Linked DNA regions of Homo sapiens. The protein of the gene in region 2 purifies or fractionates together with the protein of the main gene of each other region. This does not show direct contact. Each region holds a gene or a part of one and is shown on either strand. Other genes may lie near its edges. The genes, in order: RNF123, ZNF277 and UBE2T.

Region 1 (3,750 bases), on a different chromosome or scaffold from region 2:
CGCTCTCAAAGGTGGCTGTGCTGATGATGTCTGGAAGAAGAAGGCTGGGAGAAATGCTGGTTCCCAAAGTGGTCAGTACCAAGGCCACCTAGTCCAACCCTTGCCCCTAGGCCTGTGGTTCCTTTGGGGCAGATTCCAGTCTCGCCACCACCCAGCCAGGGGAGTCTGTGTTGAATGGGACATGTTCTGGAAGTATGAAAGGCTCAGCCCTCTGAGCTGCTGGATGGCTCTGTCCTGTACCCGCCAGTCCATAAATGGTCAGCGGAGCACATGACCCACCTACCCGAGCCAAAGGAGTTGGGAAAAATCTGTCTGGGTGGCCCCCTCATCCTCTCAACACACAGGCCTAGAGGGAAAAGGGTACTGTCTAATGCCAGTCAGTGCTGTCCTGAGCTCAGCTGCTAAGAATAGCAGGGAGTGAGGTGGTGGTAACCAGCAGGACTCAGGCAGAACAGAGGCCCATTACACACCTGGCTGCCCACAGGGTGCCACCACCTGCTCTTCCACCTTTAATGCCAGTTCTTACCCCACTCATCCACACAGACAGAAAGCTCTGGAAGGGGACAAAGGTTGGACAAGCACCCTGACAAAGTAGCCACTACCCAGGCTCAGGGATCACATATTCCCCAGTGTAAGCCACTCCCAGCCCTGAGCTGTAGGAGCAGAGATGCACAAAGGCCCCTCCCCACTGCTGCTCTGTCCCAGGCCAAGGCCAGGTGGTGGCTATGCAGTCGGGGTGCTCAGCTAGTAGCATAGAAGGCTAAAGCCAACCCCATCTCTGAATACCCCAGTGGGCCCAAGGATAAAGGAGCCTTCCTCAAAAGCAGTTACAGGCCAAGCATGGTGGCTCACACCTGTAGTCTCAGCACTTTGGGAGGCTGAGGTGGGAGAATCACTTGAGCCCAGGGGTTTGAGACCAGCCTGGGTGACACAGTAAGACCCTGTCTCTTAAAAAAAAAAAATTAGCTGGGTGCTGTGGCATGTGCTTGTGGTCCCAGCTATGTGGGAGGCTGAGGTGGGAGGATTCCTTGAGCCTGGGACTTTGAGGTTGCAGTGAGCTATGACTGTGACATAGCGAGACCCTGTCTCAAAAGAAAACAGTTCTTAACAAGCCCACACTTGGAGCAGCTACTCTTGTACCTGACCCCAAAAGTCGTGTGCCTGATCCTGAGAGCAGACTGCACATATCTGTGGGCAGTCGGCCTGAGACAGCCACCACTGAGTGCCTACAGCACTGCCCATTTGGCCAAGACCAGCAACTTCCCTGACCTTTTTGGATCTCCTAGGTCCCAGTTCAGGGCCCTGAATACCCACAACCACTGACTGACAGCCCTACCACCTGCTGTCTCTCCTGGCGGCCACAGCAGCAGCAGCAGCAGTAGGACCATCTCTGGTATCACATGAGGTAGGGATCAGATGGCTCTGAGAACAGGCCAGGACTGAGTATGGGGTGGGGGTGGGCAGGAACTCTCTGCAAGCAGGCACTTTCTGACCACCACAGTTGCTTAAATAGAACAGGTAACGTTGCTGCCTTTTGGACCTGCCTAAAGGGCAGAAGTCGTAAAAGACAGAACAGCTAAGGCTGATGAGGGGGTGAGAGACAGGGACAACCGTGCCTCACTGCAGGGAGGGAGAACCTACTTGATCCTTTGAAGAAGTAATCTGGCAACAGTCTTAAAAGTGACTGCAGTTCAAACACTCTAGCCACACGACTCCAGCCCTGGGCATCCTCACAGCATTGTTTACAAAAGCAAAAGTCCTTCCAAACTAGGGCACTGGTATGGGCCACAGCAGACCCCCTGGCCCTAAAGATGCTCAGTAAGATAAATTGATAATGGGGAAAAATACTCACGGGATAACATTTGATGATAAAAATAGGATGCAAACTTCTATAGACTTTTGGAAGTGAGGGACATGTCCATTACCTTGATGGTAGTGATGGTTTCACGGGTTTTATATATATGTTAACACTTATCAAATTGTACACTTTAAGTATGTGTAGTTTATTGTATATTAATCATAGCTCAATAAAAACGTTTTAAGAAAAGAACTGAAGGTGATAAATTTTTTTAAAGTTTTCTATACAGCATAATCTGAACTACATACATTATAAGATAAACAGACATGAAGTTAAAAAGCTTCTGCATAGCAAAGTAAACGATCAACAAAGTGAAGAGACAGCCCACAAATGGGAGAAAATATTTGTAAACTACCCATCTGACAAGGGATTAATAACCAGAATATACAAAGAACGCAAACAACTCTATAGGAAAAAAACTAATAATTCCATCAAAAGATGGGCAAAAGATACGAACAGACATTTCTCAAAAGAAGACATACGAATGGTAAACAGGCATATGGAAAGGCATTCAACGTCACTGGTCATCAGAGAAATGCAAATCAAAACTACGAGATATCATCTCACACCAGCTAAAATGGCTTTTATCCAAAAGACAGGCAATAACAAATGCTGGCGAGGTTGTGGAACCCCTGTATGCTGTTAGTGGGAATGTAAATTATAATAGTGCAATCACTATCGAGAACAGTTTGGAGGTTCCTCAAAAAACTAAAAATTGGTCAGGTGCGGTGGCTCATGCCTGTAATCTCAGCACTTTGGGACGTCGAGGTGGGAGGATCACCTGAGGCTAGGAGTTCGAGACCAGCCTGGCCAACATGGCGAAACCCCATCTCTACTAAAAATACCAAAATTAACTGGGTGTGGTGGTTTGTGCCTGTAATCCCAGCTACTCGGGAGGCTGAGGCAGGAGAATTACTAGAACTTGGGAGGCAGAGGTTGCAGTGAGCCAAGATCATGCCACTGCACTCCAGGCTGGGCAACAAGAGCAAAACTCCATCTCAAAAAAAAAAAAAAAAAAAAAAAAAAGGCCAGGCACACTGGCTCACGCCTGTAATCCCAGCACTTTGGGAGGCCGAGGTGGGCGGATCACGAGCTCAGGAGATCAAGACCATCCTGGCTAACACGGTGAAACCCCGTCTCTACTAAAAATGCAAAAAATTAGCTGGGCATGGTGGCGGGCACCTGCAGTCCCAGCTACTTGGGAGGCTGAGGCAGAAGAATGGCATGAACCTGGGAGGCGGAGCTTGCAGTGAGCTGAGATTGTGCCCCTGCACTCCAGCCTGGGCAACAGAGCAAGACTCCGTCTCAAAAAAAAAAATTTTTCAAAAAAAAAAAAACTAAACTAAAAATTGAGCTACCATATGATCCAGCAACCCCACTGCTGGGTATATACCTGAAAGAAGGGAAATCAGTATATCAAAGAGATATCTGCATTCCCATGTTTGTTGCAGCACTGTTCACAATAGCCAAGATTTGGAAGCAATCTAAGTGTCCATCAACAGATGAATAAATAAAGAAAACATGGTACATATACACAACGGAGTACTATTCGGCCATAAAAAAGAATGAGATCCTGTAATATGCAACAACATGGATGGAACTGGAGGTCATTATGTTAAATGAAATAAGCCAGGCAGAAAAAGACAAACATTGCATGTTATCACTTATTTGTGACAGCTAAAAATTAAAACAATTGAACTCATAGAGGCAAAGTACTGGATGGTTACCAGAGGCTTGGAAGGGTAGTATAGGGCTTGTGGGGAGATGGGGATGGCTAATGCGTACAAAAAAATTGAATTAATGAGACCTATCTGGTAGCAGAACAGAGTGACTATAGTAAATAATAATTGTACATTTAAAAATAACTAAAAGAGTATAACTAGATTGTTTAT
Region 2 (3,750 bases):
ACTCCTGACCTTGTGATCCACTCGCCTCGGCCTCCCAAAGTGCTGGTATTACAGGGGTGAGCCACCGTGCCCGGCCATTTTTTAAAATAAGTTAGACTGTGAGATAAATTCACCAGTTTAGATCTTAAACTGGTAGCCCTCTGGAACTTTGAAAATCTAGGAAACCGTAATAGTCTGTTACCATCAGATAGCCCAATATATAACCAACCCAAAAATAAACCATTAGGGTGTTAAATTCAATATTTAACTCAGGAGACTACCAAAGATTTGTTTGGTAGAGGTACTAAAATAATTTCAGAGTAGGGAGTTCCACTGTTGGGAAGTGGGAAAAAACTGCACTTCAACTCTGTGCCGCTGAGGTAAATACTTAAGATGATATCAATTTAACTGTGAAAGCAAAAACAAATAAATCGAAAAACAAAGTCGCAACAGTCTGAGAACTATATTTAAGCCCCAAACCATGTTCATCAGAAAAAGACAACTTGTGCTAAATTACACATCAAGACAAAAATGGGGTGGGGGGAATGGGGGAGGGATAGACTAAAGGTAAAAGAGTCCTAAACACAATCCACCTGCAGCTTTCAAAATTTGGTTTTTTATTCCTACAGTGGATCAGAGGACAACCTGAAAGTCAGGTACAGCCAAAGTTGTGATGGTTTTCAAAACTCTTTTCAAATGTTCTTTGAAGCCACGAGTGCAAATTATCTATCACTTTCCTTTTCTTTCTCTAAGGACCCAGAGACTGGGAAGATCTCTCAGGCTCCACATACAAATCTGAAGAACACCCAGAGCAGTTAACCATCTACAGGGAGGTTGTGAGATACACACACTTTCCCTTCAGAGGTCACCTCAGCCACAAACTGGGCAAATCTGTAGAGTGGAGAGCAGTGACCACCAGTCTGCGACTGGAAATACTCCGGAAGCTAAATAAAACACACCTGCGAGGTCAAACCAAGCAAACCAAGGCAGTGTACTGGTGAGGAGAAAGAGCTGCTAATCCCAAAATTATAAACACACGCGCGCGAACCAGATCTGAACCAAACCCACTCAGCAGCTAGCTCAAAGCTGGGAGCTCCAAACCAGAAGACAAACGCTCAGGGAGCTTCCCCGGCGGAGGGGAAGGCCATTCCATGGCATTTTCTCCGCCATCCCATGGCATTTTCTCCGCCATCCCCGGGCAGCCCCAACCAAGTAGCCGCCACCGGCTCCAACCCATCCCGCTGGGCCACCACCCGTGGGGCCCAGTCGAACCCAGGTGGCCCCAGAGCTGAAGGGCTCCTAGGGTCAGACCAGAGGTCCGTTGCACACCCGGTCATAGAGAAAGGAAGACACATCAGCCGCGCCTCCGGGGCACCGTACTCACCCCCATAACCTACACCCCCGACTGTGCTGCAGCTCCCATCACGGTCTTCCTGCATTCGGGCGACAGCCCCCTGGGTCTTGGAAGCAGCCATTACCCGGCAGAAAAGAAAAGGGAGGGCCGCAGGGCGGGTCGGAGGCGGGGTGGCACCAGTAGAAACGCTACTGGAGGCGAACTCCCCGTCGACGTAATGTTTTCTCCACACCTACGCCGCGCTCTGGACCAATAGGACGCAATCAGTAAAACTGAATCCCCGCCCCGAACCACATTTGCCGCGCCCACTTCCGGGATGGGGAGGCCAAGAACTACAATTCCCAGCGTGCTGCGGGGCCCTGGGACGGGAGGGCTGGACTAGGCGCTGGCGGGCGGGGGTGCGCCGGAGAGTGCCCCGGCGTGTTCGCTTAGTTCAGTGAATCAGAACAATGACTGCGCCGCCGGGTACCCGGGAGCGCGTCGGAGGACTGTGAGCAGCCGCCGCCGGGAGAGCTGCGGGCGGCGCAGTGTCAACGCTGGGCTCGGGAGCCTCCAGCGCAGATCCTGCCCAGCGCCCGCAGCCCGCGCGAAGCCGCTGGGCTCCGGCACTGCAGCGCTGCTCGGGGACTGTGCATTGTTGTGAGCCGGAGAAGGGGCGCGGGGATTACAAAGCCTGAAGACCCCGGAGCCCCTTTAGCCATGTGGATACCTACGGAGCACGAGAAATACGGCGTGGGTGAGTCTCCGCGGGGCGAACTTTTATTCTGCTCTGGCCCGAGCGAGTGCGCATTTCTCGTCCTTGCCCCCGCGCCCCTCTCGCTCCGCCCGGTTGAAAATGCCTAATCCTGGCATCGCGCAGCTGGTACGGGGCTTTGCCGAGCCAGCTCCAGGCAGAGGGCTGCGCACCAGGCTCTCGCCCCGCACCGCCTGCTCGGCGCGCCCCGCACTGGTTCCCGAAGCGCCGGGACAGCTTGGGGGAGCGCGCGGCCGGCCCGCTAGCTTCGGGCTCTGCCTGCGGAGTTTGGAGTGGCGACTGGGCGTGTGTGTGTGTGTGTGTGTGTGTGTCAAGTTGGAAGAGGAGGCGAATGGGGTTTCTCTCCTTCCTTACCCTTCTTCCCCAAAGCGACAGGGAGCTGCAACGGTTCCTCTGGGTGGAGAGGGAGACAACAACACTCGGGCAGAGAGAACACCCCCAAAACAGTAGGGAGGCGCAAACCCTTCCCTCTGGCTCGGATCGACATTCCCGGAGTGTGGAATGTGGCAGGGTCCTGGAGAGAGCCGCTCTGACAAGCTGAGCCCTCTCTGACCCTCCTCCCTCTCTGCGATCCCGGATTTATGGGGTGTGTATGTTGCGGGGCGGGGGCATTGGTAAATTTCAACATCTGCGCCGCTCGGTTCTTTGGTCTTTGGAGAAGAACGGGTATTTCAGCAGTGTTTTTACTTCTGGCCACCCTCTCGACCCCGGGTGAGCGCAGTGGGGGCGGTGTGGCGGTACAGGGCTGCTGAGTGATAAATGGGGAGGGGGATCGGAAAGCCTGGTTCTTGGGGGCAGGGAGATAGCTTTTAGGAAAGCATACCCTGACACTGGCGTTCGGAGAAAAAGGAACAGGATAGCTCTCGCTGTTCTGTGTAAAGGTGAACAACAAAGGACATTAATGTTGACTGATGAATACAGGAGTCTCCCTTCCTTTTCCTCCTCCCATTTCAGGCGGGTTACAGTTCCCGTTTTTGTTGTTTGATTTCAGCTGGGTCGCCCCTTGACAGTTACTCCTTTTAGGGTTGAGACTATTAAGAAGCCAGGCTCTCCGACAAGGCTGCAGCCGGCCAAATGCAATTATAACCTCCCAGAAGGTCTAACAGAAAGCATTATGGATTTTACTAACACTCTTTATTTCCTATAATGCCCTGTTCTGCCGACTGGTGTACTTTGTGTGTGTGTGTGTGTGTGTGTGTGTTTTAAAATTGAGGACAGGTCTAGTGATTTAGGTGATGTGTAGATATCTGCTTATGTTCTAAATTCATTTTCCTGCAATTTAAAACATCTGGAAAGCCTTCCCAGGGAGTCGTAGTCCGAGGGGATTTTTGTTTTTTTTTTTCCCAACTTTGCCTGGGGATAGGACTTTGGGGTCCATTGAAAGGACTGTAGGATTCAACAAAATCATTCCCACATTTCACGTTAGCTTCCATTCTGGATTGTGACTAATTACCAAGACAATAGTTTGACCTGAACCCACCTTTGGGAAAGGTTTCCAGCTTTCCCTCCTTCAAAGTGTCAGAGGAGTCTTTGCCAGCCTCTTTACTGGCAAGGAGTAGATGTTAGTAGTTGTTATTTTCGTTCTCCTCACTCTTCTCTTTTTTGGGAGGTAGATTAACCCTTGCTAGGGAAAAAGATAGTCCCTTTGCTGGACTGGTGAGGG
Region 3 (3,750 bases), on a different chromosome or scaffold from region 2:
AACAAAGGACATATAGAAAATCTAAAGCAGAAGTTGCAAAATGCTGGCCACAAGACCAAATACAACCTATAGATTTGTTTTGTTTGGACCGCAGTATTCTAATCATGTATGTTTCCCATCTGGCCTCACAGATATTTGAGATGGTTATCTTTGATCTAAACACTGCTTCACTGCTTTAAATCTTGGCTATAAATCAGCATAAGGTATAATAAAAAGTCAAAGAAGCAAGAAATGTCAAGCAAACCTTTTATAAATGTAAACAAATTTGGGTAGAAAGATGGTAGGGCACTCTGACCTTATAACTGCTCCTTACTTTAGAAGAATACACAAAATGTTTTATTTCAGCACAATCTTCAATAGGGTCATGACTTTCATCATATACATGATTTGATACCTACGAGCTCGCAGGTCATCCATTTGGTCTTTATCTTGCCAACATGTGATGCCTGGGGGTGGCTCTGTGGCTAACATGTGCAGCTCTCTCTTCAGACGTGAAGCTCTCTGCATGATCCCCAAGTAGAAGGAACCACACACAGTTCACTGCTCCACACTAAGAGCTGCCTGGGATGCACTGGAGGAGAAAAGAGGTGACCATAAAATCATCAGCAATAATGACTATGAAGTTTTCAGCAAACAGCTTCAATGTAGTGAGGGTGGGGGACAGAGTCCTCTTTTTTGTTTTGAGACACAGTTTCACTCTGTCACCCAGACTGGAGGGCAGTGACACCATCTCAGCTCACTGCAATTTCCACCTTCTGGGTTTGAGCAATTCTCATGCCTCAGCCTCCAGAGTAGCTGGGATTACAGGCGTGCACCACCATGCCCAGCTCATTTTAGTATTTTTAGTAGAGACAGGGTTTCGCCATGTTGGCCAGGCTGGTCTCAAATGCCTGACCTCAGGTGATCCGCCTGCCTTGGCCTCCCAAAGTGCTGGGATTACAGGCGTGAGCCAATGCACCCAGCTTTTTTTTTTTTTTTTTTTTTTTTTTTTAGAGGCAGGGTCTTGCTCTGTCACCCAGGCTGGAGTGCAGTGGCACAATCTCAGCTCACTGCAATCTCCACCTGCTGGGCTTAAGTGATCCTCCCATCTCAGCCGCCTATGTAGCTGGAAGTACAGGTGTGTGCCACCACGCCAGTCCAAGATTCCTCTTATTAATCTCTATTCTGACAAGGGAATCTGAGTTTTTCCACTCCCTTCTTGTGAACGTTTATCTATACAAGCAAATATATTTTTAAAATAAAGAACTAAAAATGCAAAAAGTTCTACAAAAAATAAAAACACTAAAGGTTTTAAATAATGGGTGTTTCCACTGATAAATTATAAACTCATGAGGCCAGGCCTGGGTCTGATTTTGCTTACTATTGTAGCCTTAGCATGCCTGTCATAGTAAGGGATTTGACAAATATTTGCTGTTGTGAGGAAGTCTACATATGCTTTGTGAGAGCAAGAATGGTAGAGATAGTCAACATTCTCAGGTACAAACAAATGTTAAATGTCCGAGTTTCTCTCCATGTGCTATGGATTCCACCTTCTCCCAATCTTCAGGGATACCATTCCATCAATTATTCCATCTTTCTTACCCTCAATGTTCAAATATGCTCAAAGTCTCTCTCACCTAAAACCAACACCTACACACATATTCACCCAACACTCTTCTCAACTCTAGTTCTCTCTTTACTAACCAAGCAAAGGACACTAATCCCTTTTGTTTTTTAGACGGAGTCTCGGTCTGTTGCCCAGGCTGGAGTGCAGTGGTGCGATCTCGGCTCACTGCAACCTCAGCCTTCCGGGTTCAAGCAATTCTCTGCCTCAGCCTCCCGAGCAGCTGGCATTACAGACGCCCGCCACCACGCCCGGCTACTTTTTGTATTTTTAGTAGAGATGGGGTTTCACCATCTTGGCCAGGCTGGTCTTGAACTCCTGACCTCGTGATCCACCCACCTCAGCCTCCCAAAGTGCTAGGATTACAGGCGTGAGCCACCGCGCCCAGCCAACACCAATCCTTTAATGTGTTACAAATATCCCCCAGTTTGTGCTTATCTTTCCATGTTGTACATGGTGTCTTTCAATAAACACATACTCTTAACATAATCAATCTTAAAATCTCTTTCTTTACATTTATACTTTGTGTATTAAATTTTTCCTTACCCCCAAATGTAGAGATATTCCTACATAGCCTTCAAATATTTTATAATTTTGCTATTCAAATTTAAATATTGAATCCACTAGGAATTGAATTTTATGTATAGTGAGTGAGGTGGGGGTCCAATTTAAAGTTTTTCCCCATATGAATAGTCAATTGTTCTAACATCATTTACTGAATCAGTCCATCCTTTCCCTGCTGATATTACTATAAATTAAATTTCTATATGTGTGGATTTGTTTTGGGACTCTTGAATTTGTTCCACTGGTCAAGTGGATTATTTCTGAGACAATACTCCACTGTTTGAATTACTATAGCTTATTCATTTTTTATTATTTAAATTTTTTCCCAGCTTTACTGAGGTATAACTGGCAAATACAAATTGTATATATTTAAGGTGTACAATGTGATGTTTTACTATAGCTTATCCACCTGGTCTTTTTCTTCAGGAATGACTTGATTATTCTTGACTCTTTGCTCTTCCATATAAATTTGAGAATCAGTTCATAAGTCCATAAATATATACATAAATATGTATATCTGAAATTATAATCCAAATCATAACAGGGTTCTGTGGTTTGGATTGTAATTTTATTGATGCTATAGATCAATTTGGAGATAACTGATATCTTTATGATATTGAATCCTAAGATCCATGAACACGCTGTTTCAGTCTTTTTTTTGATGCTTTCCAAAGGTTTTATAATTTTCTCTATAAAGCTTTATCTAATTTTTGTTAGACTGATTTCTAAGTATTTATATTTTTGCTATCTTTTCAAAAACACTATTTTCTACCCATTTCTTACTGATACATGTAAATCTAATTGATTTTTTTTTATTTTTTTGAGATGGAGTTTTGCTCTTGTTGCCCAGGCTGGAGTGCAATGGTGTGCTCTTGGCTCACCGCAATCTCCACCTCCTGGGTTCAAGCGATTCTCCTGTCTCAGCCTCCTGAGTAGCTGGCGTTACAGGCATGCACCATTAGGCCCAGGTAATATTGTATTTTTTTAGTAAAGACAGGGTTTCTCCATGTTAGTGAGGCTGGTCTCGAACCACGGACCTCAGGTAATCCACCCATCTCAGCCTCTCAAAGTGCTGGGATTACAGGCATGAGCCACCTCGCCCAGCCAATCTAACTGATTTTTAACCAAAGCCTTAGTAATGCTAATGATGAATCTATTTGGGGTGGGGAGCAGTCTGGGAATGGTAATTCCACACTGCCAATCATGTCATCCACATATAATCAAGTTTATTTCTTCCCTTCTAATTCTTTTCCTGCCTTCTATTCTGACAGTAACTTCTAGTACAATGTTAAATGAAAAAGCTGATAGCTGGGCCAAGCATGCTGGCATGAGCCTGTAATCCCAGCTACTCAGGAGGCTAAGGTGGGAGGATGACCTGAGCCCGGGGAGACTGAGGCTGTAGTGAGCCATGATTGTGCCACTGCACTCCAGCCTGGGAGGCAGAGTGAGACCCTGTCTAAACAACAGCCAAAAAAAAAAAAGAAAAAAGAAAGAAAGAAAAGCTGATAGTTGGCATTCTTGTCAGATTTCTAACCTTAAAGGGAAAGCTTTTAACACTATGCTAATCAGTAAGACTGGCCTAT

Evidence for each region.
Region 1: the proteins of ZNF277 (region 2) and RNF123 purify together in Homo sapiens (affinity purification with mass spectrometry; 3 studies listed by BioGRID and IntAct, with this or other methods). This does not show direct contact.
Region 3: the proteins of ZNF277 (region 2) and UBE2T purify together in Homo sapiens (affinity purification with mass spectrometry; 3 studies listed by BioGRID and IntAct, with this or other methods). This does not show direct contact.

The regions. Positions count from the first base shown.
Region 1 is NC_000003.12:49,692,482-49,696,231, reverse strand, and holds part of RNF123 (E3 ubiquitin-protein ligase RNF123), read right to left. Parts: intron 1-3,750. UniProt on the Homo sapiens protein: Catalytic subunit of the KPC complex that acts as E3 ubiquitin-protein ligase. Promotes the ubiquitination and proteasome-mediated degradation of CDKN1B which is the cyclin-dependent kinase inhibitor at the G0-G1 transition of the cell cycle.
Region 2 is NC_000007.14:112,204,421-112,208,170, reverse strand, and holds the start of ZNF277 (zinc finger protein 277), read right to left. Parts: upstream 1,477-3,750; 5' UTR 1,455-1,476; coding exon 1,364-1,454; intron 1-1,363. Other genes in the region: DOCK4 (dedicator of cytokinesis protein 4), read left to right, coding at 2,669-2,798. UniProt on the Homo sapiens protein: Probable transcription factor. Involved in modulation of cellular senescence; represses transcription of the tumor suppressor gene INK4A/ARF, perhaps acting via the Polycomb group (PcG) complex PRC1.
Region 3 is NC_000001.11:202,335,248-202,338,997, forward strand, and holds part of UBE2T (ubiquitin-conjugating enzyme E2 T), read right to left. Parts: intron 572-3,750; 5' UTR 508-571; coding exon 399-507; coding exon of another isoform or gene 395-398; intron 1-394. UniProt on the Homo sapiens protein: Accepts ubiquitin from the E1 complex and catalyzes its covalent attachment to other proteins. Catalyzes monoubiquitination. Involved in mitomycin-C (MMC)-induced DNA repair.